3 linked regions of the Homo sapiens genome follow. The protein of the gene in region 1 purifies or fractionates together with the protein of each later gene. This does not show direct contact. Each region holds a gene or a part of one and is shown in the gene's direction. Other genes may lie near its edges.

What was found. The genes of interacting proteins can lie anywhere in the genome.
Region 2: the proteins of CUL4A (region 1) and WDTC1 purify together in Homo sapiens (affinity purification with mass spectrometry; 11 studies listed by BioGRID and IntAct, with this or other methods). This does not show direct contact.
Region 3: the proteins of CUL4A (region 1) and COPS6 purify together in Homo sapiens (affinity purification with mass spectrometry; 15 studies listed by BioGRID and IntAct, with this or other methods). This does not show direct contact.

The regions. Positions count from the first base shown.
Region 1 is NC_000013.11:113,204,958-113,212,622, forward strand, and holds the start of CUL4A (cullin-4A), read left to right. Parts: upstream 1-4,655; 5' UTR 4,656-4,670; coding exon 4,671-4,818; intron 4,819-5,015; coding exon 5,016-5,131; intron 5,132-7,665. Other genes in the region: PCID2 (PCI domain-containing protein 2), read right to left, coding at 3,642-3,677. UniProt on the Homo sapiens protein: Core component of multiple cullin-RING-based E3 ubiquitin-protein ligase complexes which mediate the ubiquitination of target proteins. As a scaffold protein may contribute to catalysis through positioning of the substrate and the ubiquitin-conjugating enzyme.
Region 2 is NC_000001.11:27,237,615-27,244,631, forward strand, and holds part of WDTC1 (WD and tetratricopeptide repeats protein 1), read left to right. Parts: intron 1-7,017. UniProt on the Homo sapiens protein: May function as a substrate receptor for CUL4-DDB1 E3 ubiquitin-protein ligase complex.
Region 3 is NC_000007.14:100,084,029-100,091,968, forward strand, and holds the start of COPS6 (COP9 signalosome complex subunit 6), read left to right. Parts: upstream 1-4,940; 5' UTR 4,941-4,962; coding exon 4,963-5,038; intron 5,039-5,261; coding exon 5,262-5,387; intron 5,388-5,586; coding exon 5,587-5,718; intron 5,719-6,370; coding exon 6,371-6,459; intron 6,460-6,563; coding exon 6,564-6,626; intron 6,627-6,873; coding exon 6,874-6,921; intron 6,922-7,009; coding exon 7,010-7,124; intron 7,125-7,209; coding exon 7,210-7,302; intron 7,303-7,391; coding exon 7,392-7,492; intron 7,493-7,620; coding exon 7,621-7,761; 3' UTR 7,762-7,940. UniProt on the Homo sapiens protein: Component of the COP9 signalosome complex (CSN), a complex involved in various cellular and developmental processes.

The DNA.
Region 1 (7,665 bases):
GCTCCCTGGCTCTGGCCCCAGGAAGACTTCCTTGTGGTTGCTGCATGCCCCTCACGCCCTCCAGTCTGGTCCACAGGAGGCACCATCTACTCTTGGAACTCATAACTCTTTTAAAAATTCAAAATCATTACAGGTCATGAACCTCTGAAGTCACTTCTGAATAGTCAAACTTTCCAATTCCATAAACTCTTGAAAGACAATATGAAGAACTACTGAAGATTAAGGAGTAAAGTATCTAACTCAAAGCTGATTCCCTAAATAAAGATGTTCACTACACCTGTAAAAAAGAGAGGTGTTCTTGGCAAAAGGAACATAATGAAGAAAATCTTTGGGACAAGAAAGATCATGGGGTGCCACAAGAAGATACCACTCCGCACCCAGCAGGATGGCCATAATAAAAAGAATGGAAAAAAACAAGCATTGACAAGAAAGTGAAGAAATTGCAACCCTCATACATTGCTGGTGAAAATGTAAAATGATGCAGCTAGCTGCTTTGGCATTTCTTTAACAAGTTAAACACAGAATTACCATATGACTCAGCAATTCCACTCTTAGGTATATGCCAAAAAGAATACAAAACCTGCGCAAGAATGTTCACAGCAGCAGCACAACAGCCAAAAAGAGGAAACAACTGAAGTGGTCCATCAACTGATGAATGGATAAACAAAATACTCCATACAATGGAATATCATTAGCCATAAAAAAGAACGACACACTGACACATGTTCCAACACAGATGAACCCTGAAAACATGATGCAAGGGAAAGACACACAAAAGCCACATACTGAAATCACCAGAGTCAGCAAATCCATACAGACAGAGAGCACATTAGCGGTTGACAAGCGCTCGGGAGGGAGGACCAGGGAGTGACTGCTTAATGCTTATGACATTTCCATTTGGGGTGACAAAAAATTCTGGATAATGGTGATGGTTGTGCAATATTGTGAATGTACTTAATTGTGTACTTTAAAATGGTTAAATGGTATATTTTAAGTTATGAGTACTTCGGTGGGGCAATGGTGCATTCAGCATAAGTGAAATAAACCTTCAGACTGGTGATGCCAAGTTAACAGGTAAACATGGACCAGATGATGTGCTAAAGCATTTGGAACTTTCCCTGGAGGAAACAGAGAGTCAATGAAGTTTTAGTAACAGAGGCAGATGCTCAACTCTTCTTCAATAAAATACCAGAACTATCATTTACTAAGTAAATGCATTTACTGTGAATTCATGGTCTTTTTAATTCTCACAACTTATGTGAAGCCTGTTTAGAGATGGAGAGTCACAGAAGTTAGATAACTTGTCATGGTCCCAGAATTAGTAAAAATGCCAGGATTTGGGCTGAAGTCTTATTGTCTTTAAAGTCTATGGTCTCTTTGCTGTGTCTCACTTGGAAAGGGCAAAGTAAAGGAAACCATCAACCAGTACCTGCAGCAGGGCGTCCTGGCTGGGGAGCATGTGGCAACAGATAAAGAAGGGATGGATCTGAGAGACTTCGGAGATACATCCAATTAGGTAAAGGACTATTTGCTGAGACTAAAGGAGGAGTCAATGATTTCCCCCAACTTCCTAGCTTTGATGAATGTGCAAATGATGGTTTTATTCCCAAAGAGATACAGTGACATTGGCACTTATGTTCCTATACAACAAATCAAACATGTGTTACCATGTATAACCGGTTGCCATTCTGTATCGAAGAGGCACCTATTTTCTTAAAATATTCAAGAATCTGTTAATACATAAAACTTAGGTAACATGCCAGTTCAACCAGAAATATTTTTATCCATCAGAATTAGGAGGAAGCGGACTTTTTGCTGTCTCACCCCAGTGGCTACACTGCCCTTTGCGGAGATGTAGGCATGCACATCTCCATAGAAGTCCATCCTGGGCCCAGCCCCTGTCTACTCTCTCTACTTGTTCCCTGGGTCACCCCTTCCCTTCTCAGTCTTTCCCATCATGTGACTACGAAGGAGTCTCAGGTTTGTATCTTTAACCCAAATCTGTCTGTTTAAACTTCAGTTTACACACATAGAGTAGAAGCTCGCTTATCAGTCTCACTTTAACTGACTTGAATTGGAAAAATGACTCTCTCCAATCCCTCCCTGAAATACACGAGCTGATGCCCAAGGTATGATGACGACTTTCAGCAAGTAGGCTTCACTCTAATACATCGCAAGCTTTTGCCAGCTAAGTTGTATGTGTTCTCATATCCAGATGTGTTTGTTCTCAAATCTATTTTTGCTACCCGAACCTGTTATGGTAGTTATGTACTTTTAAGCTCATCAATGAAATATGAATGCAAAAGGAAACAGTTGTTTCTCTATAAGCTAAGTTGTATGTTTTTAAAAGGCTCACTTGAGTTTGTTAAAAAAATAATTAGGTATGGGGGAAAAATTGTAAAAGATTAAGAAAATTCTAAAGATAATCGTATCAAATTGGTTCTTAAATGCCTATATCCTTGTTTAACTTTAAATAAACTGATATTGGAAAATGTTAAGTCTGCTAAGATTAGGCCAAAACAGACACAGCCTAAAGAAAAGGCCCTGGGCTTACATCAAAAGATTGGCAAGTATAGAACTTGAGGTAAGTGGTGTAAAAAAAAAATTGGCAAGTGAATGTATACTTTCATGTTTTAAGTTAAAAACATACATCCATTTCTTCGTGATTCCTGTTTTAACCAGTTTTCTCAATTAACCAAGCAACTGCTGGGCCCAATCATGTCAGACTTTTCAGCTATCAAGTACGTATCTTTACCCAGTTGTCAACAGACACCTCAAACTCAACATGCCCAAAACTTTATTTCTCCCTCCAAATCCACTCTATTCATCTTTTTCCCAGATTACAAGCCTGGGAATCATTCTTAACTCCTCCGTGTCCCTCAGCCCACCCATTCTTATTCACCACGTCTTGGTAATGTTTCCTTCAAATATTTTAAAAATCCATTCCCTATATTTCCTATCCCTGTTACCACAGTGCTGGTTCTGAAGACAGGCATAGTTTAGTGGAAAGAATATGCGTTGAATCTTTACAAGTGTCCATCTTTTAACTGTGCTTCTGCTACTTACAAGCTGTTGAACAACATCTGTCAGACGCATGTACCGAGCGATATGAAGTGTGCATTGTGCTCGGAGAGTGAAGGGCGTTAAACGACAGCGAGGACGAGGGGCACGAGCCCGGCCTGCAGCACGGCCACAGCCTCGCGCTTACTCCTCCATCGCCTCCTGGAGTCCCCGAATTCATCCCGCATCCTGCTGGGAAACAGCGTCCATCCGACACAGCACCGCCCACAGCGGGCCCTCGGCGTGGCCCGCAGGCCCTTCGGACCGCCTGGGAGCGCGGCCACACGTGCCAGCAAGTGAGGGCAGCGACCTGGGACCGCCGCGTCTACTTACACCGCGACGACTCCGCGATCCACGGACACCGCCCGGCCCCCACGGCGGCCCTGCAGGGGAGAACTCGGGCCGCCTTCCCGAGTCCCGGCCGCCGCTGTTCGGCTCGCGCGGCTGCCCGCCGGGGACCCGAACGGAAGAAGGGTGGCGAGGCGGGAAAGGAAAAGGCCTGAGGGTCCAAGGCAGGAGGGGACACACGGAACACGCCGAGGGCCAACCACGCCGCCGCGCGCTCCCCGGCTAGGACCCACCTGCTGCAGGTACTGGTTAATGGTAATGTGCGCCATGGGAGCGCCGCCGAACGGAGAGCGCCACCCCCTACGCCTCAAGCGGGCCAGCTGGCGTCACTTCCGGCCCTCGGTCCGTCTGGGTCCTGGCGCCCCCGGCCCCGCCGCGGGTGCGCAGGTTGGTTCCGGAGGGAGAACCTGGGGACCGGCTCGGCGACGCGCTCGGGCTGAGGGGGCCCGGGGTCTTTCTGCCGGGGCCCCGTCCTCTCAGCCGGGACGCCAGCGGCTCTGATTGTGTGTTCGGGCCCGCCCGGGCTGAGGGGTTTGGGGTCCAGTGGCGAGGACAGCCCCACGGCTAAACTGCCTTTCACTGCGCTGACCCTTCGTCTGCCCCTTGTGAAAACCAGGCCGCGGAGGACCCTCCGCGCCTGGCTGGGCCAGGGCCTCGGGGCGCGCGCGCCCGAGGAGGGGGAGGGGGAGGGACATGGCGCGCGCTCCCGAGCTCTCATAAGGTGCCTCCGCCGCGCGCTCCCGAGCCTGCAGGAGTTAGGGCACGTCCCGGCGCGCACCCCTGAGCCCTCGAGGTGGTCTCACGCCCGGGGTGGGGGTGCCGAGCCCTCAGGAGGCGCGCGCCCCGGGGCCCTCAGGAGGGTGTCCCGGCTCCCGATCCCCTCAGGAGGGGTGCCCGCGGCACGCATCCCCGAGCCAGGAGGGGGTGCCCGGAGCCCTGGGGGCAGGGTCTCGGTGCGCCCCCCGGAGCCGGGGGTGAGGGTCCCGATCCCTCAGGACGGGAGTCCCGGCGCGCGCCCTCGAGCCAGGAGGGGGTGTCCGAATCTCTTAGGGGGAGTCCGATCCCTCAGGAGGGATTCCCGGCGCGCGTTCCTAAGCCCTCAGGAGTAGCCGGGCGCGGCGGCGGTTGGGCTCGGGCACGCGGGCGGGGCGGGGCGGGGCGCGCGAGGAGGACGGGGCGGAGGCCGCGCGGACCGGGGCGGGCGGAGCGGAGCTCGGCGGGCGGCGGCGCTCGGGGCGGGGCGCGGCGGTTCCGGCCCAGCCATGGCGGACGAGGCCCCGCGGAAGGGCAGCTTCTCGGCGCTCGTGGGCCGCACCAACGGCCTCACCAAGCCCGCGGCCCTGGCCGCCGCGCCCGCCAAGCCGGGGGGCGCGGGCGGCTCCAAGAAGCTGGTCATCAAGAACTTCCGAGGTGGGTGCGGCGGCCGGGTCGAGGGCCAGGCGCCCCGGGCGGGGACCCCACGAGACCCCGCCCGACTTGGGGGGAAGGCCCCGAGATCCGTGCGGGCCCCGGGAGCGGGGGCGCCGGGGCGCCGGCCGGGTCGGGGGTGGCTACGCGGGGCGCTTCGCGGCGCGCCCTGAGCCGCCCGCTCTCCCTCCGCCCTGCAGACAGACCTCGGCTGCCCGACAACTACACGCAGGACACGTGGCGGAAGCTGCACGAGGCGGTGCGGGCCGTGCAGAGCAGCACCTCCATCAGGTACAACCTCGAGGAGCTCTACCAGGTGAGGCGGCGGCCGGGGCTGGGGACGCCGCTCCTGCCCCGCGTGACGCAGACGCGGCCGGGCGGCCGCTCCGGGTGCCTCGCAGGCTCTCGCCGGGGAGCGGAAAGGCAGGGCGTTTGCCTCCACTGCAGGGCCGGGAGCCCCAGAGGCAACAAGTGGTTTTGTTTATTGCCGTGGTGGAATTTTTGTTTTCAGGCTTAAGCTGCTTAGAACCATATTTAAAGTTATCCCATTACGGAAGAGAAGGAGGTGTGTTTCTAGGAGCCACGTGACTCATATTTTGCAAGTATACGGCAAATTATTTTCTCGTTATATGTAAAACTCATGACTGTGTCACTTGCCACAGTAATAAGAGGGTCTTTTCTCTGTTGTGTTTTGTGATTAATGGTTGCCTTTAAGATATTCAAACAGATTTTGAAAAAATTCAAAATTCAGAAAAAGTGGTTTTGTTCTCTGTTGTGTTTTGTGATTAGTGGTTGCCTTTAAGGTATTCAAACAGATTTGGTAGCATTTAATTCAAAGTGATGGTGTTCCGTTTCTGAAGTAACAAAAAAGTACATTTTACCATACTTGGATATTTTATTTATAAGCGACTTTTTTTCTGGTGTCTTCTTTTTGTAAAGTAACATTCATTCAGTAGTCTAATATCTATATTTTAGGTCACGATGTGTCATACAATTATTTCTATTAAAAGGCTTGAATTAAAAAAACTTTTTTTCTGGATATGCAAGTGACTGCATTGTAAAAATTATAAAAAATACAAAAAAGAAGACTTCAATCACCTATACTCCTACCACCCAAAGAAAACTACTGTTGACAGTTTGGTGTACATACATCCATTCTTTGTCTGAAGTGTAAGTGGATGATGTTTTCTTACCAGCTTTGAGATAGAGTCTACATATAATGTGCACTTCAGGAAGTTTTAACAGATGCATGCAGTTACGTAACCGGCACCACGGTCAAGATGGAATCTTTCTTGGTAGAATGGTAGAATATTGCTACCACCCCCGAAATTGCCATGACCACTTTTGCAGTCAGCCCTCTCCCCTGACTCCTAGCCCTTGGCGGTCCCCCATTTGCTTTCTGTTACTATATTTTGCGATTTCTAGAACCTTATCTAAATGCAGTCATGTATTTCATAGTCTTTTGTATCTGGCTTTCACTTAGGACAGTGCTTTTGAGATTCATGCACAACGCAGTGTGATTGTAATTTATTACCTAGTAGAATGGGTATACCACAGTTGTTTTATCCATTCACCAGTTAATGGACATTTGGGTGTCCATGTTTGGGGTTTTTTGTTTGTTTGTTCTTTGAGACGGAGTTTCACTCTTGTGGCCCAGGCTGGAGTGCCATGGCACGATCTTGGCTCACTGCAACCTCCACCTCGCAGGTTCAAGCGATTCTCCTGCCTCAGCCTCCCGAGTCGCTGGGATTACAGGCACCTGCCACCACGCCTGGCTAATTTTTGTATTTTTAGTAGAGTCGGGGTTTCGCCATGTTGGGCAGGCTGGTCTCAAACTCCTGACCTCAGGTGATCCACCCACCTCGGTCTCTCAAAGTGCTGGGTTTACCAGCATAAGCCACCGCGCCTGGCCTTGGGTTGTTTTAAATAAAGCTGCTGTAAACATTTGTGAATAACCCTTTGTTTGGACATATATTCTTACTCCTCTCAGGTGAGTTCTGCTTACTTCTTTATCTAGAAGTAAGTTCTCAGGGTCATATGGAAAATGTATGTTTAACTTTGTACGGAATTTCTTGTTTTTGCAAGTGACTGCCCCTTTTGCGTCTCTCCCAGCAGTGTATGGGAGCTCCGGTTCCACTCCGCCACCAGCGTGTGCGTCTCTCCCAGCAGTGTATGGGAGCTCCAGTTCCACTCCGCCACCAGCGTGTGGTGTCCTCAGTCTGTAACTTTAGCTGTGCTTGTGGGTGTGTGGTGGAGTGTCATTGTAGTTTTAGTTTGCATTTCCCTCTGATGCTAAGCATCTTTGTATTTACTTGCCATTCTATGTATCTTCGTTGACGAAGTGTCTATTTAAATATTTTGCTCATTTTTATTGGGTTGGTTATTTTCTTATTATTGAGTATTTGAGTTTATTATGTATTCTGGATACAAGTCCTGTATCAGATATTCGCCTTGCAAATACTTTCTGCCTAGTCTTCAACTTGTCTTTTGATTCTCTTAACTGTGCCATTTGAAGAGTAATTGTTTTAAGTTTTCAAGTCACATGTATCAGTTTGTTCTTCTATGGATTGTGCTTTTAGTATCCAAGAAATCTTGCTTAATCTGAGGTCACAAAGTTTTCTCTTATACTTTCTTCCAGACATTTTAGAGTTTTAGGTTTTACATCTAGGTCTACGATCTATGTAGAGTGAATTTTTGTATATATTGTGAAATACAAATCTAGAGTCAGAGTCGGGTGCAGTGGCTCATGCCTGTAATCCCAGCACTTTGGGAGGCCAAGGTGGGTAGATCGCCTGAGCGTCAGGATTTTGAGACCAGCCTGGCCAACATGGTGAAACCCCATCTCTACTA
Region 2 (7,017 bases), on another chromosome or scaffold:
TGAGGTGGGCAGATCACGAGGTCAGGAGATTGAGACCATCCTGGCTAACACGGTGAAACCCCATCTCTACTAAAAATACAAAAAAAATTAGCCGGGCATGGTGGCACGCGCCTGTAGTCCCAGCTACTCAGGAGGGATTTTCCTACTAAGGCAGGAAAATCGCTTGAACCCAGGAGGTGGAGGTTGCGGTGAGCTGTGATCGTGCCATTGCACTCCAGCCTGGGCAACAAAAGTGAAACTCCATCTCAAAAAAAAAAAAAAGAAAAGAAAAGAAAAAAAAGAAAGAAGCCAGTTCCTTGGTGTAGTTAATTTACTTTGAGAGGTATTTGCCAGTTGGGATATGTCCTAAAAAGTGACTGACATTTTATTCAGGGCCTGGTATATCTTGAGCTCAGTGCTAGCTAGTATTTTTACTTTATCCAGTGTAACCTTCATGACTGTCCTGTGAGGTGAGAATCATTTTCCCTATTATACCTATGAAGAAACAGATTCAGAGAAATTAAGTTATTTGCTTAAGGTCACACAGCAAGTAAGAGGAAGGACTGGAATTCAAACCCAGGTCTCTCTGCTCTGTGATATTGAATTGCCTCTGGGACTGTGACACATGAAGAAGAACTGAAAAGACCAAGGCTAAGAGCCTGGGGGAACATGATACCTCATTCAAATACTTGAAGATTGTCATGGGGAAAGGAAACTGGATGTTCTCTGTGATTCTAGAAGGCATCTCAGGATTAAATGACATAATTTCCAAGAAGGTAGACTTTGGTTTGATAGGAGATAATGTAGCTTTCTAAAAACAAAATGGGCTGCCTTGTGAGGGAGTGAGTTACCCATCATTGCAGATATTCAAGCAGAGAGTTTGCCACATCTTTTTTTTTTCTTTGAGACAGAGTCTTACTTCGTCATCCAGGCTGGAGTGCAGTGGCATGATCTCAGCTCACTGCAACCTCTGCCTCCCAGGTTCAAGTGATTCCCATGCCTCACTTCATCTTCCAGGCTGGAGTGCAGTGGCATGATCTCGGCTCACTGCAACCTCTGCCTCCCAGGTTCAAGTGATTCTCATGCCTCAGCCTCCCAAGTAGCTGGAATTATAGGCATGTACCACCACGCCCATCTAATTTTTGTATTTTTGTAGAGATGGGGTTTCACCATGTTGACCAGACTGGTCTTGAACTCCTGACCTCAGGTGATCCGCCCGCCTCAGCCTCCCAAAGTGCTGGGATTACAGGTGTGAGACACCGCGCCCAGCCCCGGCTAATTTTTTTGTATTTTTATTAGAGACAGGGTTTTGCCATGTTGCCCAGGCTGGTCTTGAACTCCTGAGTTCCACCTGCCTCGGTCTCCCAAAGTGCTAGGATTACAGGCATGAGCCACCGCTCCTGGCTTTTTTTTTTTTTTTTTTTTTATGAGACAGGGTAGATGGGAAGACAGGTGTGTGCCATCACGCCTGGCTAATTTTTTAATTTTTTCATAGAGATGGGGTTTCACTATGTTGCTCAGGCTGGTCTCAAACTCCTGGGCTCAAGCAGTCTGCCTACCTCAGCCTCCCAAAGTCCTGGGAATACAGGTGTGAGCCACCATGCCCAGCCTCCCTGTCTGTTTGATCTGTAAAACCTAACATGGCTTGGCACGGTGGCTCACACCTGTAATCCCAGCACTTTGGGAGGCCTAGGTGGGTGGATTGCTTGAGCCCAGGAGTTTGAGACCAGCCTGAGCAACATAGTGAAACCCAGTCTCTACAAAAAGAAAATTTAAAAATTAGCCAGGTGTGGTAGCATGTGCCTGTATTCCCATCTACCCAGGAATCTGAGGCGGGGGCATCACTTGAGTGCAGGAGGCAGAGGTTGCAGTGAGCCAAGACTGCGCTACTGAACTCCAGCATGGGCAACAGAGACCCTGTCTCAAAAAAAAAAAAAAAAAAAAAAAGCCAGTTGTGCAGTGGCTCATGCCTGTAATCCTAGCACTTTGGGAAGCTGATGTGGGCAGAGCTCAGGAGTTGGAGGCCAGCCTGGGCAACATGGCAAACCTGTCTCTACTAAAAATACAAAAAATTAGCCAGCCGTGGTGGTGCACACCTGTAATCCCAGCTACTTGGGAGGCTGAGTCATGAGAATTGCTTGAACCTGGGACGCAGAGGTTGCAGTGAGCCAAGATCGTGTGCACTCCAGCCTGGGGGACAGAGTGAGACTCTGTCTCAAAAAAAAAAAAAAAACCAAAAAAACCCAAAAAAACTAACATGTATTGAATATTTAGTATATACCAGGCACTTGCTAGATACTTTTTCTTTCTTTTTTTAAGACAGAGTTTTGCTCTTATTGCCCAGGCTGGAGTGCACACGATCTCTGCTCACTGCAACCTCCGCCTCCTAGGTTCAAGCAATTCTCCTGCCTCAGCCTTCTGAGTAGCTGAGATTATAGGTGCGCGCCACCATGCCTGGATAATTTTTGTATTTTTTTAGTAGAGATGGGGTTTCACCATGTTGGCCAAGCTGGTCTCGAATTCCTGACCTCAGGTGATCCACTCACCTTGGCCCCCCAAAGTGCTGGGATTACAGGCATGAGCCACCAGGCCCAGCTCTACTTTTTCTATAATGTCTCTTATAATCTTCAGAGCTCCCCTGGAAGGAAGGTATTACCATTATCCCCACTTTACAAATGAGAAACTGAGACTCTAGACTAAAGTTAAGGAATATGCTGGAGGTTACACAACTAGTAGTGTAGGGCTGATATTTGAACCCATGTCTCCTCCTTAGCTCTGTGACCTAGGGCCAATCATGTATCCTCTCAGAGCTATAGTTTCACCTATAAAATGAGGCTTATTGTAGTACCTACTTTTTAGTGGGTTTTTGAGGACTAAATGATGAAATATATCCTTTTTACTAGACCTCACTGATTGCCCTCAAGAGCCAGGGCTTGGATGTAAAGGAATACCACTTAGTTGGCTTCTTCTGGGTAAATTCAGGCCTATGTGTAACTCTGAGAGTTCTAGGGCCCATTCTTTGAGCTATTAAGTAATAGCTGCTGACTCCTTGAAGGGCTTTGTGGCATTGAAGACTAATACCTTAAAAACTTTTAAGCCTGGGCTGGGCGCAGTGGCTCATGCCTGTAATCCCAGAACTTTGGGAGGCTGAGGTGGGCGGATCACAAGGTCAGGAGTTTGAGACCAGCCTGGCCAAGGTGGTGAAACCCTGTCTCTACTAAAAATACAAAAATTAGCCTGGCGTGGTGGCGGGTGTCTGTAGTCCCAGCTACTCAGGAGGCTGCGGCAGGAGAATCGCATGAACTCAGAAGGTGGAGGTTGCAGTGAGTTGAGATCGCAACACTGTACTCCAGCCTGGGTGACAGTGAGACTCCATCTCAAAAAAAAAAAACAAAAAAACTTTAAGCCTGAATAAGGGGAGGATGCAGTCAAAAGGCCAGAGTGTATAGGAGGCAGTGTCAGAGGCCCTGTGCAAAGAAAATTCTCAGCTACTACTGCAGAGCCAGATTTGAGGGTCACCGTTGGCATTTTTGTATTTATTATCTTCTTTTAGGATACAAGGTCACAACTGCTAGAGCTGTAACAGAGCTCAGTGCCAAGAATAATGACCCTTAATCCTCCGTATAGCCATCTGGGGAGGTATTAACCCCATTTTCTTGGAGATGGGGTGGAGAACAGGATCAGACCTTGCCCAGGGAGCTCTCCAGAGGCTGTTGAGGGCAGTGTTTGGATCAGGACTTTTGTACAATTTTGTCCTTATTCATGACCCCCCAAATTCTATAAAACTGCTTATCCTTGAACCTCTTAGGGGGCCTTCCTGAGAATGGGAGCTAGGCATTCATGGTCAGGGAGCTTCATAGTTGAGGCCTGAGTGTTTGGGTGCTGATGGCCTACCTGGTTCCCTTTTGAGTTACACATCTGGATATAACACTACTGTCACTGAGTTAGAAAGGAAACATTTCTAACTTGAATGGTTTAGTTTTCCTTGACCTTGCAGCTAGTAGTAGAGTTACAGGATGAAACTCCAGAGCCTTCTCTACAAGAGATATTTTGAATTGTGGCAGGATTTGTCAGGATGCAAGTTAAAGACTGCAGATGCTTTTAAATAGTGAGAGAGTATAGCATTATCAAAATATGCTCCCTTTTCTCTGTTTCCTTCCACTATCTTAAGGTAATTGTGAGGCCTAAGAGCAGACAGGAAAATTAGCTATGATCACTGGAAAACAAAGTTCTGAAAACATCCAGAAAAAATTTTCACAAAGCTCAAACAAGTGGCTGGGTGTGATGTCTCACACTGTTTTTTTTTGTTTTTTTTTTTTTGAGAGTCTCGCTGTGTCACCCAAGATGGAGTGCAGTGGTGCAATCTTGGCTCACTGCAGCCTCAGGCTCCTGGGTTCAAGCGATTCTCTTGCCTCAGCCTCCTGAGTAGCTAGGATTACAGGCGTGTGCCATCACGCCTGGCTAATTTTTGTATTTTTAGTAGAGACGGGGTTTTACCATGTTGGCCAGGCTGGTCTCCAACTCCTGACCTCCAGTGATCCTCCTGCCTTGGCCTCCCAAAGTGTTGGGATTACGGGGATGAGCCACCGTGCCTGGCCAGATGGTTCACACTTGTAACCCTAGCACTTTGGGAGGGTGAGATGGGAGGATTGTTTGAGGCCTGGACTTCAAGAACAGCCTGGGCAAAATGATGAGACCCCCATCTCTACAAAAAATAAAAATAAAAGTAGCCAGGCATGGTGATTTGCACCTGTAATCCTAGCTACTCAAGAGGCTGAGGCAGGAGGATCCCTTAAGCCTAGGAGTTCAAAGTTGCAGTAAACTGTGATAGTGCTACATTCCATTCCAGCCTGGGGAACAGAGCTAGACCCTGTCTCTTTTTTTTTTGAGACGGAGACGGAGTTTCGCTCCTGTCGCCCAGGCTGGAGTGCAATGGTGCAATCTCGGCTCACTGCAACCTCTGCCTCCCGGGTTCAAGTGATTCTCCTGCCTCAGCCTCCCGAGTAGCTGGGATAACGGGTATGCACCACCACGCCTGGCTAATTTTTTGTATTTAGTAGAGACAGGGTTTCACCATGTTGGTCAGGCTGGCCTCAAACTCCTGACCTCAGGTGATTCACCCACCTCGGCCTCCCAAAGTGCTGGGATTACAGGCGTGAGCCACCGCACCCAGGCGACCCTGTCTCTTAAAAGCTCAAACAGCAATACGGAGCCCACTGGGCAGGGGAGAAGACATCAAGGTGAGTTTTTATCTAAAGCTTCCCAGAAAGTAAAGCATTGCTTAGAAGCAGCTCTCTTCTGCAGAGAAAACCTCAAGCAGTCCTACATGGGATTATTTAAGCCAGGAGCCTCAAAGATGGCTAAGAAGTTTCCTGAAGATGCTTTGGTGATGAGTCTATCCTACCAGCGAAAGCTTTCCCAGAAACTGTCCTTGTACCAACTTAGTCCATGACCTTGAAATGGCACTCTTTAAATTTGTGTTTGAGATCAGCAGAGTCAAGGCAGCTTAACCCTAAGGAATGGTAAGAGACAAAGTTTCAGCAGCTTCCTGAAATTGTATCAATACTGATATTACAGGTGTGAGCCGCTGCTCCCTGGCCAGTAATTTTTTTTTTTTTTTTTTTTTTTTTTGAGACAATGTCTCACTCTGTCACCCAGGCTGAAGTGCAGTGGCATGATCTCGATCTTGGCTCACTGCAACCTCTGCCTCCTGAGTTCAAGTGATTCTCCTGCCTCAGCCTCCCCAGCAGCTGGGATTACAGGCGCCTGCCACCATGTCCGGCTAATTTTTGTATTTTTAATAGAGACAGGGTTTCACCACATTGGCCAGGCTGGTCTGGAACTCCTGACCTCAAGTGATCTGCCCGCCTTGGCCTCCCAAAGTGCTGGATTACAGGTGTGAGCCACCACACCCGGCCCAGTAATTATTATTTAGTGGCCAATGGCCTGGCCCCTGGAGTCAGACTGTATAGGTTGACTCTCTGTCTAAGAACTGTGTAGCTTTGGCAACTTCACTTTTCTGTGCCTCAGATCCTGCATCTGTAAGATGAGGATAACAATAGCACCTGTCTCATAGGATTATTATGAGGAGTCTGTGAGATGACACTTGTAAACTGTTAGAATGTTCAATAAATATTATTTAATAGGATCAGTGTCAGGCATTTTACATGCAAGCGCTTCTGTTCCTCCTCACCCTGCAGAGGTAGGTATTATCAGATTAGGAAACTAAGGTTTAGAAGTGTCAAGTCAGGGTCTGGCATGGTGACTCATGCCTATAATCCCAACACTTTGGGAGGCTGAGGTGGGCAGATCGCTTGAGCCCAGGAGTTCGAGACCAGCCTGGGCAGCATGGTGAAACCCCATCTCTACAAAAAAAAAAAAAAAAAATGCAAAAATTAGCCAGGTGTGTGTGGGTGGTGCATGCCCGTGGTCCCAACTACTCGGGAGGCTGATGAGATGGGAGGATCTCTTGGGCCCGGGAGGCAGAGGTTGCAGTGAGCTGAGATCATGCTACCACACTCCAGCCTGGGTGACAGAGCCAGACCCTGTCTCAAAACAAATAAAAATTTTTTTAAAAAAATTAAAAAGATGAAGAGACGTAAGAGGTATAGAAAAGAAAAAAAAATTTAAAAGAAATGTCAAGTCAGACAGAAAATAGGTGTCAGAACTGGGATTTGAACCTAAGATCTGTTAGGTCCACAGCTACACTCTTCATTTTATTATGCTCTTTCTTTCTTTTGTTTTGTTTTGTTTTTGAGACAGCGCCTCACTTTGTCACACGGGCTGGAGTGCAGAGGCACAATCATAGCTCAATATAGCCTCAAACTCCTGGGCTCAAGCAATTCTCCCTCCTCCCTCCTGCCTCAGCCTTCCTAGTAGCTAGGACTACAGGAGTGTGCCACCATGCCTGGCTAATTTTTAAAAAACTTTTTTATAGAGACAGGATCTTACTCTGTTGCCCAGACTGCTCTCGACCTCCCGGCCTTCAAGTGATCCTCCTGCCTCGGTCTCCCAAAGCACTGAGATTACAGGCATGAG
Region 3 (7,940 bases), on another chromosome or scaffold:
CATCACACCTGGCTTCCTTTCTGTTTTGTAGACTGGGTGCTGCCAGTTCATGAATCCCTAATAAAGCCAACTCAATCTTTAAAATTCAATTTGTTGGCCGGGTGCAGTGCTTCACGCCTGTAATCCCAGCACTTTGGGAGGCCGAGGCAGATAGATCACCTGAGGTCAGGAGTTTGAGACCAGCCTGGCCAACATGGTGAAACCCTGCCTCTACTAAAAATACAAAAACAAAAATTAGCCGGGAGTGGTGGCAGGCACCTGTAATCCCAGCTACTTGGGAGACTGAGGTGGCAGAATGGCTTGAACCTGGGAGGTGGAGGTTGCAGTGAGCCGAGATCGCACCACTGCACTCCAGCCTGGGAGCGACAGAGGGATACTCCATCTCTGTATATATATACGTATCCTGAAGTATGTTTATGGTCTGTTTCCTACAACTAGGGTATAAGCTCCATGAGGTCAGGACTTCGTTTTGTTTAGTGATGTACCTGCTGCCTGGTAGGCACTCCCAAATATTTGTTAAATTAATGACTGATAGGTGAATAGATAACCACTGACCCATACCAAAAAGGAGCACTTGCTTTTTGTTCGTTTTTGTTTTTGGGGTGGGGATATTTTTTTGGTTTGTTTGTTTGTTTGTTTTGAGACAAACAAATATGGCGAAACTCTATCTCTACAAAAAATACAAAATTTAGCCTGGCGTGGTGGCACGCATTTGCAGTCCCAGCTACTTGGGAGGCTGAGATGGGACAGTCACTTGAGTTCAGGAGGTTGAGGCTGCACTGAATTGTGATTGTAACACTGCACTCCAGCCTGGGTGACAGAGCAAGACTCTGTCTCAAAAACAACAATAACAAACACAAAACAAAACAAAAACAAAAAAAAAGAAACGTTTAGCAAACTTAGTTCTAAAATGCGCACAATCAACTGATTCAATGTCAAAGTCATCCTTAAATTCCACAATAATCTCTTGTTTTATGAGCTGTATAATTATCTGAACAATGTTTCAAAAGCACCTGAAACAACAAGGCAAAGGAGTTCTTTAATGTGTGAGAGAGCAGTGCAAACGATCAACTTTACTAACCCTAGAATAATTCTCATCTTGTTTTTATTTTAGCCTTCTATCTAGCTGAGAAGCACTATGCTCCTTGGAAGCTGCCTAGCATTCTTTAAAGAGAGACATTTTTCTGGCCAGGCACGGTGGCTCACACCTGTAATCCTAGCACTTTAGGAGGCCGAGGCAGGTGGATCGGTTGAGGCCAGGAGTCTGAGAACTGACTAGCCAACATGCTGAAAACCCATCTCTACTAAAAATACAAAAATGAGCCAGGTGTGGTGGCGCAAGCCTGATATCTCAGCTACTTGGGAGGCTGAGGCACAAGAATCACTTGAACCCAGGAGGTGGAGGTTGCAGTGAGCCAACATCTCACCAAAGAGATACATTTTTCTGACCTGGTTTTTCCAAATAGAAACAAGGCATTAGGTACTTTTCTTTGACAACCCTCTCAGTTTGTCCAGACCTGGTTGGTTTATCACTGGGGACTAGAATAAAATAAATTCCTTTTTAACTTCCCTTTGGCGAGAAGACCCCTCTTCCTGCAGGATTTCTCAAGTCCGTTCCATTGAGGGTTGCTGGCCCCTTCAAGTTTCCTTCATCCAGGCTCCTAAACGGAGAGATTGCATAATTCCCCTGTAAATTACAACTATCACCATATGGGGCTGTTCAGGGTCATAACACAGTTCTTCACCTGCTTTCTAGGAGCTTACACTTTGGGTGGGGATACAGACACCTAGAGCCAGAGTATGTCTGGCTCTTTCTAGGTGTCTGTACCCCTCTTTGTAGGGGTGGCAGGAGGAGCAGTGTGTGCAACTTGCTTAGGTTTAGGGGTAAGGAGGGGGTGGAGCAGCCTAGGCTAGCCAGATGTGAATTTTGGGTTTTTTTATGAGACAGAGTCTTGCTTTGTCAACCAGGCTGGAGTGTGGTGGTGTGATCTCGGCTCGCTGCAACCTCCGCCTCCCGGGTTCAAGTGATTCTCCTCCCTCAGCCTCTCGAGTAGCTGGGATTACAGGCATGCACCACCACGCCTGGCTAATTTTTGTATTTTTAGTAGAGATGGGGTTTCACCATCTCTACTGGTCGAGACCAGGCTGGTCTTGAACTCCTGACTTCAGGTGATTCACCCACCTCGGCCTCCCAAAGTGCTGAGATTACAAGCATAAGCCACTGTGCCTGGCCAGGAACTCAGTATTTAAGGGAAGAAAGCATGCAAGAGGAAAATAAGGAAGAAGGAGAGGCAGTGAGGCAAATGTTTTTTGTTTTGTTTTGTTTTGTTTTTCTTAAGACAGTGTCTCGCTCTGTCAGCAGGCTGGAGTGCAGTGGCGCAATCTCGGCTCACTGCAACCGCTGCCTCCCAGGTTCAAGCGATTCTTGTGCCTCAGCCTCCCAAGTAGCTGGTACTACAGGTGCGTGTCACCATGCCCAGCTAATATTTTGTATTTTTAGTAGAGACGGGGTTTCACAGTGTTAGCCAGGATAGTCTCAATCTCTTGACCTTGTGATCTGCCTGCCTCGGCCTCCCAAAGTGCTGGGATTACAGGCGTGAGCCACTGCACCCAGTCCAGCAAATGGTTATTTTATTTTATTTTTTGAAATAGAGTCTCAATCTGTTGCCCAGGCTGGAGTCCAGTGGGTCCATCTCGGCTCACTGCAATCTCCACCTCCTAGGCTCAAGTGATTCTCCTGCCTCAGCCTCCCAAGTAGCTGAGATTACAGGTGGGCACCACCACACCCAGCTAATTTTTGTATTTTTAGTAAAGATGGGGTTTTGCCATGTTGGCCAGGCTGGTCTTGAACTCCTGGCCTCAAGTGATCCACTCGCTTCCCAAAGTGCTGCGATTACAGGCATGAGCCACTGCACACCCTGCTGCACATTGTTACTTTTTTGTGAGTTTCTCATTAGTGTTCAGTAAATCTACATTTTATGTAAGATACAATAAACATTTGAAAAGAGGGAGTGGAGGAAAAAGTCAGTTATGCATCTGTCTCAGGATAGGTGGAGGGATGATTCCTGGTCTCTTCCTTGTTCTATAATTGGGAAGATAAGCTTGTAATCAACATTGTCAGTATGAGATTTCACAGAACTCGGATTAGGGCTGGTTTATAGGGGGAATGTTTATGCTGAAAGATTCAGAGGCTAATGAGGAATTTCCTGGCAAGCAATTTGTGAGGAAGACCATCTGGGGAGGTATATGCCTTTTGCCATTGTAGGAGCCTGGCTTATGTATGAGGCTATGACACAGGGTTGTGGAATTACAGCTATCTGGGAACAAAAAGGAAGGGAGTTTTGACTCACTTCCCAAGCATAAATTTCCTCGGCATGCCTCTACCATACCCAGCGAATTTTGTTTCCATGTTTTGTTGAAACAAGGTGTCACCATGTTGCCAAGGCTGGTCTCAAACTCCTGGGTTCAAGTGATCCTCCAACCTTGGCCTCCCAAAGTGCTAGGATTACAGGCGTGAGTCACCATGCCTGGCCTTGTGGAGTTATCTTCTTTCTTTCTTTCTTTCTTTCTTTTTTTTTTTTTTTTGAGATGGAGTCTCACTTTGTCTTGCCCGGGCTGGAGTGCAGTGGCGCGATCGCAGCTCACTGCAGCTTCCACCTCCCGGGTTCAAGCAATTCTCCTGCCTCAGGCTCCTGAGTAGCTGGGATTACAGGCGCCTGCCACCACGCCTGGCTAATTTTTGTATTTTTAGTAGAGATGGGGTTTCACCATGTTGGCTAGGCTCGTCTCAAACTGCTGACCTCAAGTGATTGTCTGGCCTCGGTCTCCCAAAATGCTGGTATTACAGGTGTGAGCCACCATGCCTGGCCTTGTGGGGTTATTTTCGAAAGTCCTTGAGATAATTCCTATCTCAGACATGCAAGCATGAGACCTTCTCCTTGGTGTTCTCATGGCTCCAATTTGTTTGGACCTGACAATGTGATTTTGTCCTGGTATCTGCAACTTTCACAAGATGGAGCAACTAACTCAACACCAGATTCCACCCCTAATTATTCCTTCATTCACTCAAAAAGTATCTAGGCTCCAATGTGTCAGGCACCGTGTTGGTCACAGGGGATACCATGATGAACAAGAGAAGGAACCACAGGCTTTTGAATGGGAAACTAAAGCATGTGAAAAACACACGGAGAGCTGGGTGCGGTGGCTCATGCCTGTAATCCCAGTGCTTTGGGAGGCTGAGGATGGAGGATCTCTTCTGCCCGGGAGTTGGAGACCAGCCTGGACAACCTAGTGAGACCCCCGTCTCTATCAAAATAAAAACAAATAATAAAATTAGCTGGGTGCGGTGGGGTGCGCCTGTAGTCCCAGCTACTCGGGAGGCTGAACTGGGAGGATCACTTGAGCCCAGGAGTTTGAGGGTGCAGTGAGCTGACATCAGGCCACTGCACTCCAGCCTGGGCGACAGAGCGAGACCCTGTCTCAAACAAAACAAAACAAACCACCACCACCACCAGACATGAGGGCCAGTGCAGCTGAAGCCTGAAGATCAAGGGCTAGAAGAGGCCAGGCCGGGGCCAGATCAGGCAGGGCCTTGCAGGTTGTGGTTAGTTGTTTGGATTTTATTGTGAGGGAAATAACACGACATGTCATTCCTTCTGCAACAGCCTTAAGAACTAGGCGTTCTTATCCCAATTTCACAGACGAGGACGATCAAGTCGTTAATTTGTCAAAGGTCACCCGCAGGCGACAGGCGGGGACAGGGTCTGGGAAAACCCGCTAGGCACCGAGGCCCAGAGGGCGTCGGGCGTCCCCGCACCGAGTGCCGCCCGCCGCGACCCGGGAACTGCCTGCTCCCCGGACGCCAGGCCCGCCGCACGCCGCGGGGACACCGAACATGCGCCGCTCGCCTTACGGAAGCCGGGAAGGAAGGGGGCGGGGCCGAGGCTGGCGGGCGCGGGGAAAATGGCGGCGGCGGCGGCGGCGGCTGCAGCTACGAACGGGACCGGAGGAAGCAGCGGGATGGAGGTGGATGCAGCAGGTAACGGGCCGTGCGGGGGTGGCTTCCGGAGACCTCCTTCAGGGGTTCGTTGAGGCCTCCCTGTGCTCCCGGGAGAAGGGAGGAGGGCGGAGCAGCAACATCTTTCCCTGGGATAAGTTACGGGAGGAAAGTGTGGCCCGGGCTCCGCCGTCCCCCACTGCCATCTCCAGGGAAGAACGTGGGGCCCGGACTCTCACCCTCTCTCCTTTCCCTCCACCCTTAGTAGTCCCCAGCGTGATGGCCTGCGGAGTGACTGGGAGTGTTTCCGTCGCTCTCCATCCCCTTGTCATTCTCAACATCTCAGACCACTGGATCCGCATGCGCTCCCAGGAGGGGCGGCCTGTGCAGGGTGAGTGTTGGGCATAGACTCCAGTCTCTTCTCCTTGCTCACCTCCCCCAGGCAGTGGTCTTTTCCCCTTCCTCTACTGGAGCCAATTCCCCCTCCCCCAAATCATCGTTTCCCCAATACATGGTTCCCACTGATCTCAGACCCTCAGGTCATAGAAGTTTCTTTACCCTCACCTTTTCCATGTCATTCTCTTTCCCAGTGATTGGGGCTCTGATTGGCAAGCAGGAGGGCCGAAATATCGAGGTGATGAACTCCTTTGAGCTGCTGTCCCACACCGTGGAAGAGAAGATTATCATTGACAAGGAATATTATTACACCAAGGAGGAGCAGTGTGAGAGTGGAATAGATGTGGGGAAGAGGAGTGGGAGTTAAAAAAAAAATGTACAGGGTGGGGAAGATGGAGAGGGTTGGAAAGAAACAGGAGAGGAGACCAAGAACAGGGGAGAAAAAGTGAAGAGTAGCTGGAGAGATCTCAGAAAAAGAAAACGTTCAGAGTTCTTTCTCAAAAGAAAGCAAAGGATGAGAGGAGACAGGATAGAAGGGAGTAGTTATTCTAAACTGAGCCAGGATTTGAGGAGGGAGGAGAGAAGCTGGTGAAAATACACCAGGAGCTTCACATTGAGGAAGGATGGTTTAAAGAATTACTATGTCAGGCCGGGCTCAGTGACTCATGCCTCTAATCCCAGCACTTTGGGAGGCCGAGGTGGGTGGATCATGAGGTCAGGAGTTCAAGACCAGCCTGGCAAACATAGTGAAACCCCACCTCTACTAAAAATACAAAAATTAGTCTGGCATGGTGGTGCGTGCCTGTAGTCCCAGCTACGCGGGATGCTGAGGCAGGAGAATTGCTTGAACCTGGGAGGCGGAGGTTGTGGTGAGCTGAGATCATGCCACTGCACTCCAGCCTGGGCAACAGAGCGAGATTCCGTCTCAGAAAAAAAAAAAAAAAGAATTACTATATGTTCTGGCCCCTTCCCCTCTAGTTAAACAGGTGTTCAAGGAGCTGGAGTTTCTGGGTTGGTATACCACAGGGGGGCCACCTGACCCCTCGGACATCCACGTCCATAAGCAGGTATGCATGCTCACACCTGTGCATGCTGGGGCAGAGAATGGAGAATGAGGGGAAGGAGAAAGGTAGGGGGCACTGACTTCCTGTGCATTGTCCCTCTCTTCCAGGTGTGTGAGATCATCGAGAGCCCCCTCTTTCTGAAGTTGAACCCTATGACCAAGCACACAGATGTGAGTAATACTCCATGCCTACTCTGTCATGATTGTCGCTATACCTTTTACTGTGTGACACTCCTCTATTGGGGAATGCCAGATGCCACTTACCAGCTGTGACTCTGGCTTAGTCATTTAATCTCCAAACTGTGAAAGGAGGTAATCCCTACTTCATTGGTTTCTTGGGAAGATGAGAGGAAATGTGTAAAAGCAGCTAGCCCAAATGTTGGCATATAGTGTTCAGGTTTCTCCGTCTCCTTCACAGCTTCCTGTCAGCGTTTTTGAGTCTGTCATTGATATAATCAATGGAGAGGTAATACCCTACCCTTCAACCCTCAGATCCTGCTCTTGGCCTCTTTCCTGCTTTTGATTCTCCCTTTGTGGGTTACCTTGCCCTGTAGGCCACAATGCTGTTTGCTGAGCTGACCTACACTCTGGCCACAGAGGAAGCGGAACGCATTGGTGTAGACCACGTAGCCCGAATGACAGCAACAGGCAGTGGAGAGAACTCCACTGGTAATGGAGGGGATTCCTTGGAAGTGGGGTTGGAAGGTGTGGCCACATCCCGTCTCAACCTCCTCCTGTCCTCATCCCCTTGCAGTGGCTGAACACCTGATAGCACAGCACAGCGCCATCAAGATGCTGCACAGCCGCGTCAAGCTCATCTTGGAGTACGTCAAGGCCTCTGAAGCGGGTAGGACAGGGGCTTCCCTGGCATTCTTCCTCTCCCTCCTGGGGAAGTGACAGCATCCAAACTAATGTAGTCTCTTTTTGTGCCTTTAGGAGAGGTCCCCTTTAATCATGAGATCCTGCGGGAGGCCTATGCTCTGTGTCACTGTCTCCCGGTGCTCAGCACAGACAAGTTCAAGACAGATTTTTATGATGTGAGTGTAAAACCCGGATGGGGAGGCGGGGCTTATGCTGTCACTTTCACGTGCAGGACTGGGGACTGTTGTTCCCCGGGCATGCCACGAGGGATCCCGAGGAACTGGTCCTTTCTGTTCCCTCCCAGCAATGCAACGACGTGGGGCTCATGGCCTACCTCGGCACCATCACCAAAACGTGCAACACCATGAACCAGTTTGTGAACAAGTTCAATGTCCTCTACGACCGACAAGGCATCGGCAGGAGAATGCGCGGGCTCTTTTTCTGATGAGGGTACTTGAAGGGCTGATGGACAGGGGTCAGGCAACTATCCCAAAGGGGAGGGCACTACACTTCCTTGAGAGAAACCGCTGTCATTAATAAAAGGGGAGCAGCCCCTGAGCACCCCTGCTGGTGGCTCTGTCCTCTGTTAGGCACCACACTGGTTGGTCAACTTGGATGTTCATC